3 linked regions of the Homo sapiens genome follow. The protein of the gene in region 3 binds, or shares a complex with, the protein of the main gene of each other region. Each region holds a gene or a part of one and is shown on either strand. Other genes may lie near its edges. The genes, in order: EIF3J, EIF3F and EIF3D.

What was found.
Region 1: EIF3D (region 3) and EIF3J share a complex: the UniProt entries of both Homo sapiens proteins name them as parts of the eukaryotic translation initiation factor 3 (eIF-3) complex.
Region 2: EIF3D (region 3) and EIF3F share a complex: the UniProt entries of both Homo sapiens proteins name them as parts of the eukaryotic translation initiation factor 3 (eIF-3) complex.

The regions. Positions count from the first base shown.
Region 1 is NC_000015.10:44,547,147-44,550,897, reverse strand, and holds part of EIF3J (eukaryotic translation initiation factor 3 subunit J), read right to left. Parts: intron 23-3,751; coding exon 1-22. UniProt on the Homo sapiens protein: Component of the eukaryotic translation initiation factor 3 (eIF-3) complex, which is required for several steps in the initiation of protein synthesis.
Region 2 is NC_000011.10:7,985,473-7,989,223, reverse strand, and holds the start of EIF3F (eukaryotic translation initiation factor 3 subunit F), read right to left. Parts: upstream 1,888-3,751; 5' UTR 1,872-1,887; coding exon 1,508-1,871; intron 1-1,507. UniProt on the Homo sapiens protein: Component of the eukaryotic translation initiation factor 3 (eIF-3) complex, which is required for several steps in the initiation of protein synthesis.
Region 3 is NC_000022.11:36,522,419-36,526,169, forward strand, and holds part of EIF3D (eukaryotic translation initiation factor 3 subunit D), read right to left. Parts: intron 3,714-3,751; 5' UTR 3,704-3,713; coding exon 3,581-3,703; intron 3,292-3,580; coding exon 3,246-3,291; intron 2,315-3,245; coding exon 2,178-2,314; intron 1,563-2,177; coding exon 1,477-1,562; intron 864-1,476; coding exon 791-863; intron 1-790. UniProt on the Homo sapiens protein: mRNA cap-binding component of the eukaryotic translation initiation factor 3 (eIF-3) complex, a complex required for several steps in the initiation of protein synthesis of a specialized repertoire of mRNAs.

The sequences.
Region 1 (3,751 bases), on a different chromosome or scaffold from region 3:
CATCATCGTCATCCCAGTTATCCTAAAGAAAAGGACTTCCATTAATAATTCTTGCATGTTTGCTTTTCTATGTGAACTTTATTATCAACTTGACTAACTCCAGAGAAATGTTTGTTGGTATTTTTTTGTACTGCATTAAATTTATAAATTAATGTAGGGGGAATTGACATCTTATAATGCTGAGCTGCCCTAACCAAGAATAAGAACTGTCTTTCCATTTGATCAAGTACATTTTTGTACCTTTCAGAAGTGTTTTAAAGTGATTTCCCTATTAGAGGCTCTGCGCATTTCTCTTTAGATTTATTCCTAAGTATTTCATCTTGTATGTTGCTATTATAAATAGGGTGTTTTCCTATTATGTCCTCTAGGTGGCTATTATTTGTGTATAAAAACCTATCGGCAAGACCCAGTCTCTGCAAAAAAAAAAAAAATTAAAAAATTAACTGGGCAACGTGGCATGTGCCTGTAGTCTCAGCTACTTGAGAGGCTAAGGTGGGAAGATCACTTGAGCCCAGGAGGTTAAGGCTGCAGTGAGCTATGATAGTGCCACTGCACTCTATCCTAGGCAACTCACTATCATAAAAACCCTGTCTCAAAACAAATAAACAAAAATGACTATTGGCTTTTTTATATGTTAATATCCTGCTACCTTACTGAATTCATTTATCACTTAAGTTAGATTTATCGTTGCTTCTCTAGGGTTTTACAGGTATGCTACCTTATCTGCAAACAAAAGATAGCTTTACTTCTCTACCAATCCTTAGGCCCTCACAAGTGATTTACCTAATTGGGCCAGCTAAACCTCTAGTGCAATGTTGAACAGCAGCAGAAGTAATGGGCATCCTTGCTTTCTTGATGGAAATGCCTCTATTGTTTCCCCATGAATTGCTATGCATCCCAACAAATTTATGCAATAAAATTTACCAGACTTTTTTTTTTTTTTTGAGACGGAGTTTCTTGCCCAGGCTGGAGTGCAATGTCACGATCTCAGCTCACTGCAACCTCCACCTCCTAGGTTCAAGCGATTCTCCTGCCTCAGCCTCCCCAGTAACTAGGATTACAGGCATACACCACCATGCCTGGCTCATTTATTTTTAGTAGAAATGGTTTTTTTTTTTTTTTTTTTTTTTTTTGAGACGGAGTCTCGTTCTGTCGCCCAGGCTGGAATACAGGGACGATCTCAGCTCACTGCAACCTCTGCCTCCCAGGTTCAAGTGATTCTCCTGCCTCAGCCTCCCGAGTAGCTGGGATTACCAGCACATGCCACCATGCCTGGCTAATTTTGTATTTTTAGTATAGACAGGATTTCACCATGTTGGTCACACTGGTCTCGAACTCCTGATCTCATGATCCGCCCGCCTCGGCTTCCCGAAGTGCTGGAATTACAGGCGTGAGCCACCGTGCCTAGCCCCAGTCTTTTCTTTCATTGCCTCTGGATGGATTTCAAGTCAATTAGAAAGTCTTTTCTTGTTTTTTTGTTGTTTTGTTTTGTTTTGTTTTGTTTTTGAGTTGGAGTTTTGCTCTGGTTGCCCAAGCTGGAGTGCAATGGCATGATCTAGGCTCACTACAACCTCCACCTCCCGGGTTCAAGCAATTCTCCTGCCTCAGCCTCCCAAGCAGCTGGGATTAGACATGCACCACCATGCCTGGCTAACTTTGTATTTTTAGTAGAGATGGGGTTTGTCCATGTTGGTCAGGCTGATCTCGAACTCCCAACCTCAGGTGATCCGCCCACCTCAGCCTCCCGAAGTGCTGGGAGTACAGGCATGAGCCACTTCGCCCAGCCAGAAAGTCTTTTCTTACACCTAAGAATTCACCCACAATTTCTTCTAGAATGTATAGGGTTTCATTTTTTTTTTTATTTAGATCTCTGATTTGGAGTTTTTTTCTTGTGTTATGATATGCAACATGGATCTAATTTCATTTTTTTCCCAAATGGCTACCCAGTTGTCACAGCATCATTTATTAAAAACCCTTTAATAAATAATGGTTTTTTTCCCTGGGCTATGGTTTGAATGTGTCCTCCAAAGTTCATGTGATGAAATCTCCAATCCAACAGTGTTGAGAAGTAGGGTCTTTTAGAAATGATTAGAGGCAAAGCCCTCATGAATGAATTATTAATACCTTTATATTAGGAGTAGATATCTGATAAAAGGATGAGTTCTGACACCTCCTGCAATCCTTTGTGCTCTTTTGCCCTTCTGCCCCAGGATAATAGAGCAAGAAGGCCCTCGCCAGATGCCAGCACCTTGATACTGGACTTCTCAGCCTCCATAACCATAAGAAATAAATCTGTTGTTTATACAATACCCAGTCTATTGCATTCTATTGCAGCAAAAAACATTTTAAGATACCTTGTGACTTACCATATACTAAATTTTCATATGTACTTGGTCTATTTCTGGGCTTTTGATCCTATCCCACTAGTCTACTGTCTCTCCATATAACGGTACCATACTGGGTTTTTTTGGTCTTGTTTTTTGAGACGGAGTTTCACTCTTGTCGCCCAGGTTGGAGTGCAATGGCGCGATCTCAGCTTACTGCAACCTCTGCCTCCTGGGTTCAAGTGACTCTCCAGCCTCAGCCTCTGGAGTAGCTGGGATTACAGGTGTCCACCATCATGCCGGGCTAATTTTTGTATTTTTAGTAGAGACGGGGTTTCTCCATGTTGACCAGGCTGGTCTCGAACTCCTGACATCAGGTGATCCTCAGCCTCCCAAAGTGCTGGGATTGCAGGCGTGAGCCACCATGCCCAGCCGGTACTGTTTTAATTACAGAGGCTTTACTTTAATGTCAGCTAGAGCTAGTCCTTCCTTGTAGGTTTTCAGATTTTTTAGTGTTTTCTTGGCCTTTCTTGCATGTTTTGTTTTTCCATATGAACCCTCATATCAACTTATCTAACTTCATAAGAAAGCTTCTCCATTAGCAGTTAGGACAACCTAGCTGAAATCAATAGCCTCTCTGAAAGTGATTCAGTTATTAATAAATAAAAACTGAGAGAACTTTATAGTTCTTACTTCCCCCCAAATGTAAAAAGCATCCTATACTCTGGCCAATAGCTCATTTATTTCAAGTAGTATTCCATACAACATAAGCCTGGTTAATGAATTAAGTCTATATAATTCTAAAGCCCACTATTAAAAAGGAGTCAGGCCGGGTGCGTGGCTCATGCCTGTAATCCCAGCACTTTGGGAGGCTGAGGTGGGCGGATCACGAGGTCAGGAGTTTGAGACCAGCCTGGCCAACATAGTGAAACCCTGTCTCTACTAAAAATACAAAAAATTAGCTGGGCGTGGTGGCAGACACCTATAATCCCAACTACTTGGGGGCTGAGGCAGGAGAATCACTTGAACCCAGGAGTGGGAGGTTGCAGTGAGCCAAGATTGTGCCACTGCACTCCAGCCCAGGTGACAGTGCGGCGAGACTTCGTCTCAAAAAAAAAAAAAAAAAAAAAAAAGAATCAAGGCCGGCTTACGCCTGTAATCCCAACACTTTGGGAGGCCAAGGCAGGCAGATCACCTGAGGTCGGGAATGCAAGACCAGCCTGACCAACATGGAGAAACCCCGTCTCTACTAAAAATACAAAATTAGCTGGGTGTGGTGGCACATGCCTGTAATCCCAGCTACTCGGGAGGCTGAGGCAGGAAAATTGCTTGAACCCAGGAGACAGAGGCTGTGGTGAGCCGAGATCGCGCCATTGCACTCCAGCCTGGGCAACAAGAATGAAACTCCGTCTCACAAAAAAAAGTCA
Region 2 (3,751 bases), on a different chromosome or scaffold from region 3:
TGATGCAAAAATAATTTATTACAGAAGCTCAGAGCAGGGCACAGTTACAGAACACCATCATGCTGTGGAAGGTTAAGAATGGAGTGAGGGTCCGGGTATGGGATGGAGGACCGGCACTTAATGCTGTTGCTGGGAACGTGGAAGGTAGGTAGAGCTTAAACAAATGAAGGACAGCAGGAAAAGCACTTGTGGCAAAGAGAACGCAAAAGCTTGGTCTGAGAAAAGACAAGCAATGTTCAGAAGATATGAATTTAAGTTTCTGTAAAATGCTATACCGTCAAAGATAGATAAAGGAGAGAAAATGTGTGTCTGTATGCATTGGGGTGGTCCAGGCCTGATGTGAATGGCAACTAACAGCTGTACCTAATGTGTGCCAGCATAGTCAGAAGTTTTTAATTTAGCTCTCACAAAGACTAAGTCTAAAGTAGCTCCTGACAGAACAGATTTTAGGTAATCTGCCCCAAGTCACATGGCAAATGTTTTGTGAGGTCTGCTTACAAATCTTGTCTGCTTTGCAATATACCAACTGTCTTCTATGGTGTAAGAACTAGTAGATGTTCAAGAGTATGAAAGAGAAAGAATGCTTGTAAATAAAGTGGATTCACAAAGCTATTTAAAATCTGGCACTAAGATGGAATGGAAACGAATTTCATGGGACCAGCATAGTCTCCAGAAAGGAATTTATTATCAACAATCCCTCTTTAGTGCTTTTCCATTTTACAAACTACTTTAACATAAAATATCTATTCCCCAAATTTGGAACACAGGCAGAGAATGGGTCATTTTTCGACCTGAAGGTTAAGGGCAGAAATATAAACAGATAATACAACTGTTTGCGTCCAAATGCAAAATGGGGGAACAGGGTTTCTCACATTAGGTACTAATATTAGGGGACACTGAGGGACACAGATCAGGCTCAGACGTTTAGGACAGCAGAACACTATAAAATCCCAAGCGGGTTCCAACCAAACCGGTTTACTTGTTGGGAGGAATGTTTTTTTACAAACGTCCCCACTCCTTTGACAACTGGTTAGAAAACTTTGTCAATACCTGGAAAACGATGACATTTAGTCAGTGGATAAGGGAGAAATATGTGGTCACTGGTATAGGGAGTCAAGGGTTCCTGACTTCCCACTCGGCGTGTGAACTCATTTTTGGTAGATGCAGCCCATCATACTTGCCATAAACTGCTGTTTATGTAAAATGTAAACCACTGGCATAAATGTAAACCACTGGCATAAAATATTCAGTAAATGACACAACTACTCCTTGTGTATTTTATGTCGCTTAAAGTGACAGCAATCCGGCAGGAGAGAGAGGAGAGATGCAAGTGCTTGAGAAGATAAGTCACAGCAAAAGGTAGGATGCAGATATAGATTAAGAGGTCATTGGGGATGGGAGGAAAGGACGGTAGGACACCAGGAATTAAAGAATTAATGAGTTAGGGGAGTGAGATAAATGAGAAGTGGGAGGAAGAAAAGAATGTTAACTTTCTCTGACCACTCACCCAACAGGGTCCCGATAACTCGGGCAGCACCCTCGTTGCGTCTCTCGTAGCTGTCCACAATGGAGGCCAAAATGACTGGGTGCAGCCTGACCACGCGGCCGCCGGGGAAGGGCCCTGGAAGAGCAGGACCAGGCAGAGCGGGCGCTGGGGTCTGCGCTGGAGCTTGCGCTGAGGCCGGGGTCTGGCCAGGAGCCGCAGTTGCAGCCGCTGCTGCCGCAGGGTCTGAGGATGAGGCTGGAGCCGCAGCGGGAACCGGAGCCGCAGCCGGTGCTGGCGTTGGCGCTGGAACTGAGGCTGGGGCCGCCGCCGGGACTGGGGTTGGCGTGGCCGGAGGAGCACTTACTGGTACCGCCGGTGTGGCCATCTTGTCGAGAAAGAAGGAGGCGGAAGCGGAAATGACAGCATTCATGAATATCAGGAGCTTGATAGGCTGAATATACACCACGTGAGCTAGAGCTTTTTGCTGATTGGTTACTGGTGATACTTCTCGGAGCACTGAAATAGTCCCGCCGTTGGTAATTTCTTCTGGAATTTGTGCGCTCTGCTTTTGGCCCGAGGAGCACTCAGGAAACCCTGGGCTAAGTAGTTCCGGGTAAAACTTGGGACGGCGTTCGAAGAGAAACACTTTGTGCAGCTGCCGCCAGGTGGAACCAGAAAGCAGCGCGGAGGTCGAAATTCGTGTTTTAGACTTAAATGAGATAATGGATGTCAAAGTGCCTTTAAAAAGGATTTTAAGGCCAGGCGCGGTGGCTCACGCCTGTAATCTCAGCACTTCGGGAGACCGAGGCGGAAGGATCGTTTGAGCCCAGAAGCTCGAGGCTGCAATGGGCGAGAAGGAGAACTTAGCTGGATTTCTCCTGCTGCTTTGAGAAGAGACTGGAGGGTGAGGGGAGGTGAGGAGAGGGAGGCGAGAGAGGGAAAAGCAGGGAGACCTGCTGGGAGGCCACTAGGTAATCTAAGTGAGAGATGATGGTGGCTGGGACCAGGCTGGTAGCAGTAGAAGTTCTGAGAAGTGGGAAGATTATGGATATATTTTGAAGGTAGTTTCAATAGGGTTTCCTGAGAAATTGTATATGAGGTGTGAAAGAGAGGAGTCAAGGAGGACTGCAATTTTTTTTTTTTTTTTTTGTACTGAGCGATTAGTAGGATGAAGTCACCATCAATTGAGATAGCAAAAGCTGTAGGTAGAGCAGGTTTTGGGGAAAAGATCCTGATTTCATTTCTGAATGTGTCACCTTTGAGATGTCCATTACACATTCAAGTGGAGTTGTAATAAGGTGTATAAACTAGTCTGTACTTTAGGAGAGGATTATATGAGGTATTGCCTTGTAAAGCTCTTAGCACATGCCTGATATACAGTAGTTATTAAGTCATAGCTATTATCACTATGTGATGGAGGGAGCTCTGACCATAACCCACTGTGTAACTTGGGGCAATCTACAAGTTTTTTCTGAGCCTCAATTTCCTTCTTGGTATAATGGGGTGATAACATCTGCTTGTAAAGACAAAACAAAACACCAAAAAAACTGTCAACTCCCTTAATTAGGTCAAGTCCTAGTGTCCAGCTGGCAAGTGGATAGGTGAGGTTGAACTTCTTATCCCTGATTCTGTGCCCAAGAGTTGATTTCTCCTTGGAGAAATCTTCCATTATTAGAATTCACATGACGCTGCTCCCCTGTAAATGCTCTGTGTAGACATGCATTCTTTCTTTCACCAAAACAAAGGTGAACAGCCAAACAGAAGAAGATTGAAAAGTAACTCTTGGATTTGATGACCTGGAGTCTTTAGCAACCCTAGTAGAGCAACGTCAGTGGGACTGAGGGTGGGGTGGGCACAGAAACTAGAAATCTGGTGTGAGAGAATGGCCAGTCTGAACTGAAAGCAGCAAGTGCCAGCTTTTCTTTCAGGAAGTTTTCTGGGAAGGAAAGGAGACATTTAAGGAAATAGCCAGGGAAACAGCAGGATTGAGAGGCAGCCAATTTAGGATGGCAGTGTTTCAAGTATATTTTAAACTGAGGATAAGAATATAGACGAGAGAGAAATATTAAATATACAAGTGTGAAAAAATATCTAATGAAACGGGCAAAAGGTGGACCCACACTGAGAAGCCTAGATGGTCTTGCACAGGCTGAGAGGCATGCTGGAGAGACTGCCCAGGGCCCTGGCCTCCCTTTTGGGTGCTTAGTAGGGGTCTGCCTGAGTCAAGGTCAGTCCATTGAGATCATCTCATGGGAAAAAGGCCAG
Region 3 (3,751 bases):
CTTTTCATATATGTGGCTACCACAGGCCGAATGTGGGACTTGAGAATGTGTAGACTTTCATATACTGAAGGAAAACTGTACCGACACATGCTACCACATGGATGACTCTTGAAAACACGCTAAATAAAAGCTGCCAGTTACTAAAGACCACATATTGTATGATTCCATTTATGTAAAATGTCTAGAACAAAAAATCCCGAGACAGAAAACAGATTCATAGCTGCCTACTGCTGGGCTACTGGGGGTGCTGGTGTTTGGGTGTGCCTCCTGGAATTCATTTGGCAATCTGGTTGCTACTGCGGCAGTGTCGGGAGGTAGGGCCTTTAAGAGATTAGGTCGTTAAAAGGAATAAATGCCTCATGCCCTTCTCTCAGGAATGGGCTAACTACCCAAAGTTTAGCCCTTTTCTCTGTTGCACCCTGCTCCCGCTTCTGCTTTTTCTGCCATGCTATCAAGCAGCATGAGGCCCTCACCAGATGTGGCTCCTGATCTGGGACTTCCCAGTCCCCAGAACCATGAGCTAAAGAAACCGCTTTATAACTTACCCACTCTCAGGTATTCTGTTCTAGCAACGGAAAACAGATCAAGACAGGGTGACTGCTAAAGGGTAAGGGATTCTTTTGAGGGTGATGAAAATGGTCTGAAATTGACCAGTTACAGAACTCTTCAAATATATTAAAAACCACTAAATTGTACGGTATGTGAAGTATATCTCATCTAAGCTATTAATAAAGACAACCAAATAAACAGAACCAAATTCCAAGGCAGAATTCTGGTATAAATACATTACCTGTGATTTCTGATCCCATTTCTGCCTAACCCCAAATTGTTTCTGGAACTTTTTCTGCAGTCGAATGCGTTCTCTGGAAAGACAGACATATGATCTCAGTGCAGACCTTTAAACCAGTGGCTTCTTCAAAAGGCACACGCTGCCATTCTCTTCAGCTAAACCTTACCATCACCACTAACTCCTTTAAACTACGAAAAATGGGCTTAGAGAAAGGAAGAGACCCAGACGGTGCATACTGGAGGTGTTAGAAAAGGTACACTGCCTCCAAATACTGACCAGATGATTTTACTTCATCTATAGTGACTGTTCACTGATAGTTCCAATCTGGGGTGTAGTGGCCGCTGGACCACACAACACCAGGAGGCTCAAAGGACCAGCATACAGGGGGCTTCCTAGAGTTGACCCACAGCAGAACTGAGCCCAGGTAAGCTCCAGAGCCTCTTCTTGCCTGCCTGTGTTTCCCTTTAGTGCGCATGACCAGCACAAGGAGTTAGTTTCCTGCCCATGCTATCTGCCATGAACCAGCCTGAGAACGACAAGCTAAAAGGGGGCTTAACTGGTTGTAGAAAGTATTTTCCTTTTTTGCAGTGGTGGGGAATACAACCATCCTCCTGCTTTGGTCCTGTGGTTTCCAAATACGGCCAGTCTGGGAAGGGTGTCTTGTTCCAGCAGGATGAAAATCTCACCTCTCTTTCTGTTTGGCACTCTTAGGCAGGATCTGCAGGTTGAACTGCAACATGTTCCGACGATCTTTGTCTCTGCGGAGGTTCCTCTGGGCATCAGCAAGAAACATCCATGTTAAAATCTTGGAGATTTGGCTCACAATAGGCAGAACAAGTGGGAGGTCTTTGGAGTAAATTTAGGATGCCAAATCCCAAGTTTCACATCTTACTCTGTGCTTTCACTCTACGGCATCAACAGCTTGGGGGTGTTAGGGGGTAAGTGCTTGGACTTTGCTTAGACCTATACTCCCATGATATATTTTTCATTGAAGTATGTTTACTGGGTCTCATTAGATTTTCTGAGTTTGCCTCTTTAAATAATAATAGGCAATCTGACTGGACCATCTACTTAATAAAGTCTGCACACAGCAATTAAGTGTGGTAACAGGCACAGGTGCACCTTCTTATCCAGCACAAATGTTTTTAGCATACAAGTCTGATGTCCTAGCTACTGGCAAACAGAAATATAAACTATTTAAATGCATCCCTGATCCTAGTGCAAGTTCACCTTGGTACCACTTGTTATGGAACGGTGACCCGAGATTCACGAAAAGACCTATAATATGCTTCCCTCTCTCATTAGGAGTCACAAGGTAGCATTTTTTAGCAGGTGATGGCCAACAGTAACAGCCCCAAGATGGTGTGGTTGCTGGCTCTTGGCCTACCTGGGCAAATCTCATTCGATTCCGCTGGTAGGCCGTCTTCTGTGTGCGCGCTGTATCCACCAGCTGGAAGCTACTTTCATCCTCCTCATGGAAATAAGCATATTGACTTCCACCACCAAACTGAGAGGAGTACTTATCTGGAGGCAAAGGTGATGGCATGTAGTAACTGCACCCACAGACTTTACCAGATATGCACCAGTCTAAAGCCTTGCTATTTCAAGTGTGGTCTTGAGACCTGTAGCATTGGCTGAAAGCTTGTTAGACACACAGACTCACAGTCCCACCCCATACCCACTGAATCAGAACCAGCATTTTAACAAGATCCCCGGATGATTCATATGCACATTCAATTTTGAACAACTCTGGCCTAAAGAACTTTCTAAGCCAAGAATCTGAAGGACTCAAACTAACCCATTTCACTCTCTGCGTTATTGTGTGAGAATCTGAGGTATTTATTGCTAACCACCATCTCCATTATCAGGGGCCCATGGCAGGTATGTCTAATAGATCACGATATACTTTCTTGCCAATCTCAGCCTCAGCTATCCTAACTTAGTTCTCCAGGCAGCCACCTCCAACTATCTGAAGTGGCAGAGAGAAAAAGCCTTTTTATGGTACCAGGATCTTAAAACCAGGGGTTTTACTTTTTTTTTTTTTTTTTTTTTTGGAGACAGGATCTGGCTCTGTCACCAGGCTGGAGTACAATAGCATGATCTCTGCTCACTGCAACCTCTAACTTCTGGGTTCAAGTGATTGTCCTGCCTCAGCCACCCGAGTAGCTGGGATTACAGGTGCACGCCACCACGCCCAGCTAATGTTTTCAACAGGTTTTTAAAAGGGCCCAAAACCCCATTTTAATAGGCTAGACCTCTTTAATGAATGGTCTAAGTTTTGAGGGCTATTTCCAAAAATGTGGTTATTGTTAAAGCCCAGAATACATCCCTAAAAGTTATGAATTATTGTTGGCAGTTTCTTCCCATTCTAAAAAGCTTTCAGAAGAAGGTCATTAGAATAAAGAACAACTTTCCCAAGGCCCTGATTGGGGCATTCAGTTGCAGAAACACTTACTTGTGTACCTCTTATCTTGGTATGTGGCTCCTGTCCAGTCTGCAACCTACGAAGAACAAGAAAAGACAGAGAATGCACAGGTCAACCAGGCAAGTTTCTGCAGAACCAGAAATCCCTGAGCGCGAGAGGACAGCGTGGAAGAGTCTCAGAATTTGTTCACAACACCTCTGTAAGTGCCCAGCTCTTCTATGACTACACCCAGAGATAACCTTTCTCAGCTGGCATCCCTATAAGAAATTCAGGAGTTAAGATTTTGAGACAATAAAATCTAAACAGGGACTCGAGAGTAGCAGCCACAGCTGCAAAGATTCAGACTCCTGCTGACAGGCATGTACCTTTCCTAGCCGATCTCCTTTGCTGAACGGCTGGTAGGGCATATCCCGAAACTGCTCGGGAACCGCACAGGGACCCCAGCCTGAGGGGTTGTCCTGGATCACGGGTGTCATGAACTTTGCCATCTTCCAAAATCTGAAAAATATAAATCATGTGAGTAGCGGCATGAACGA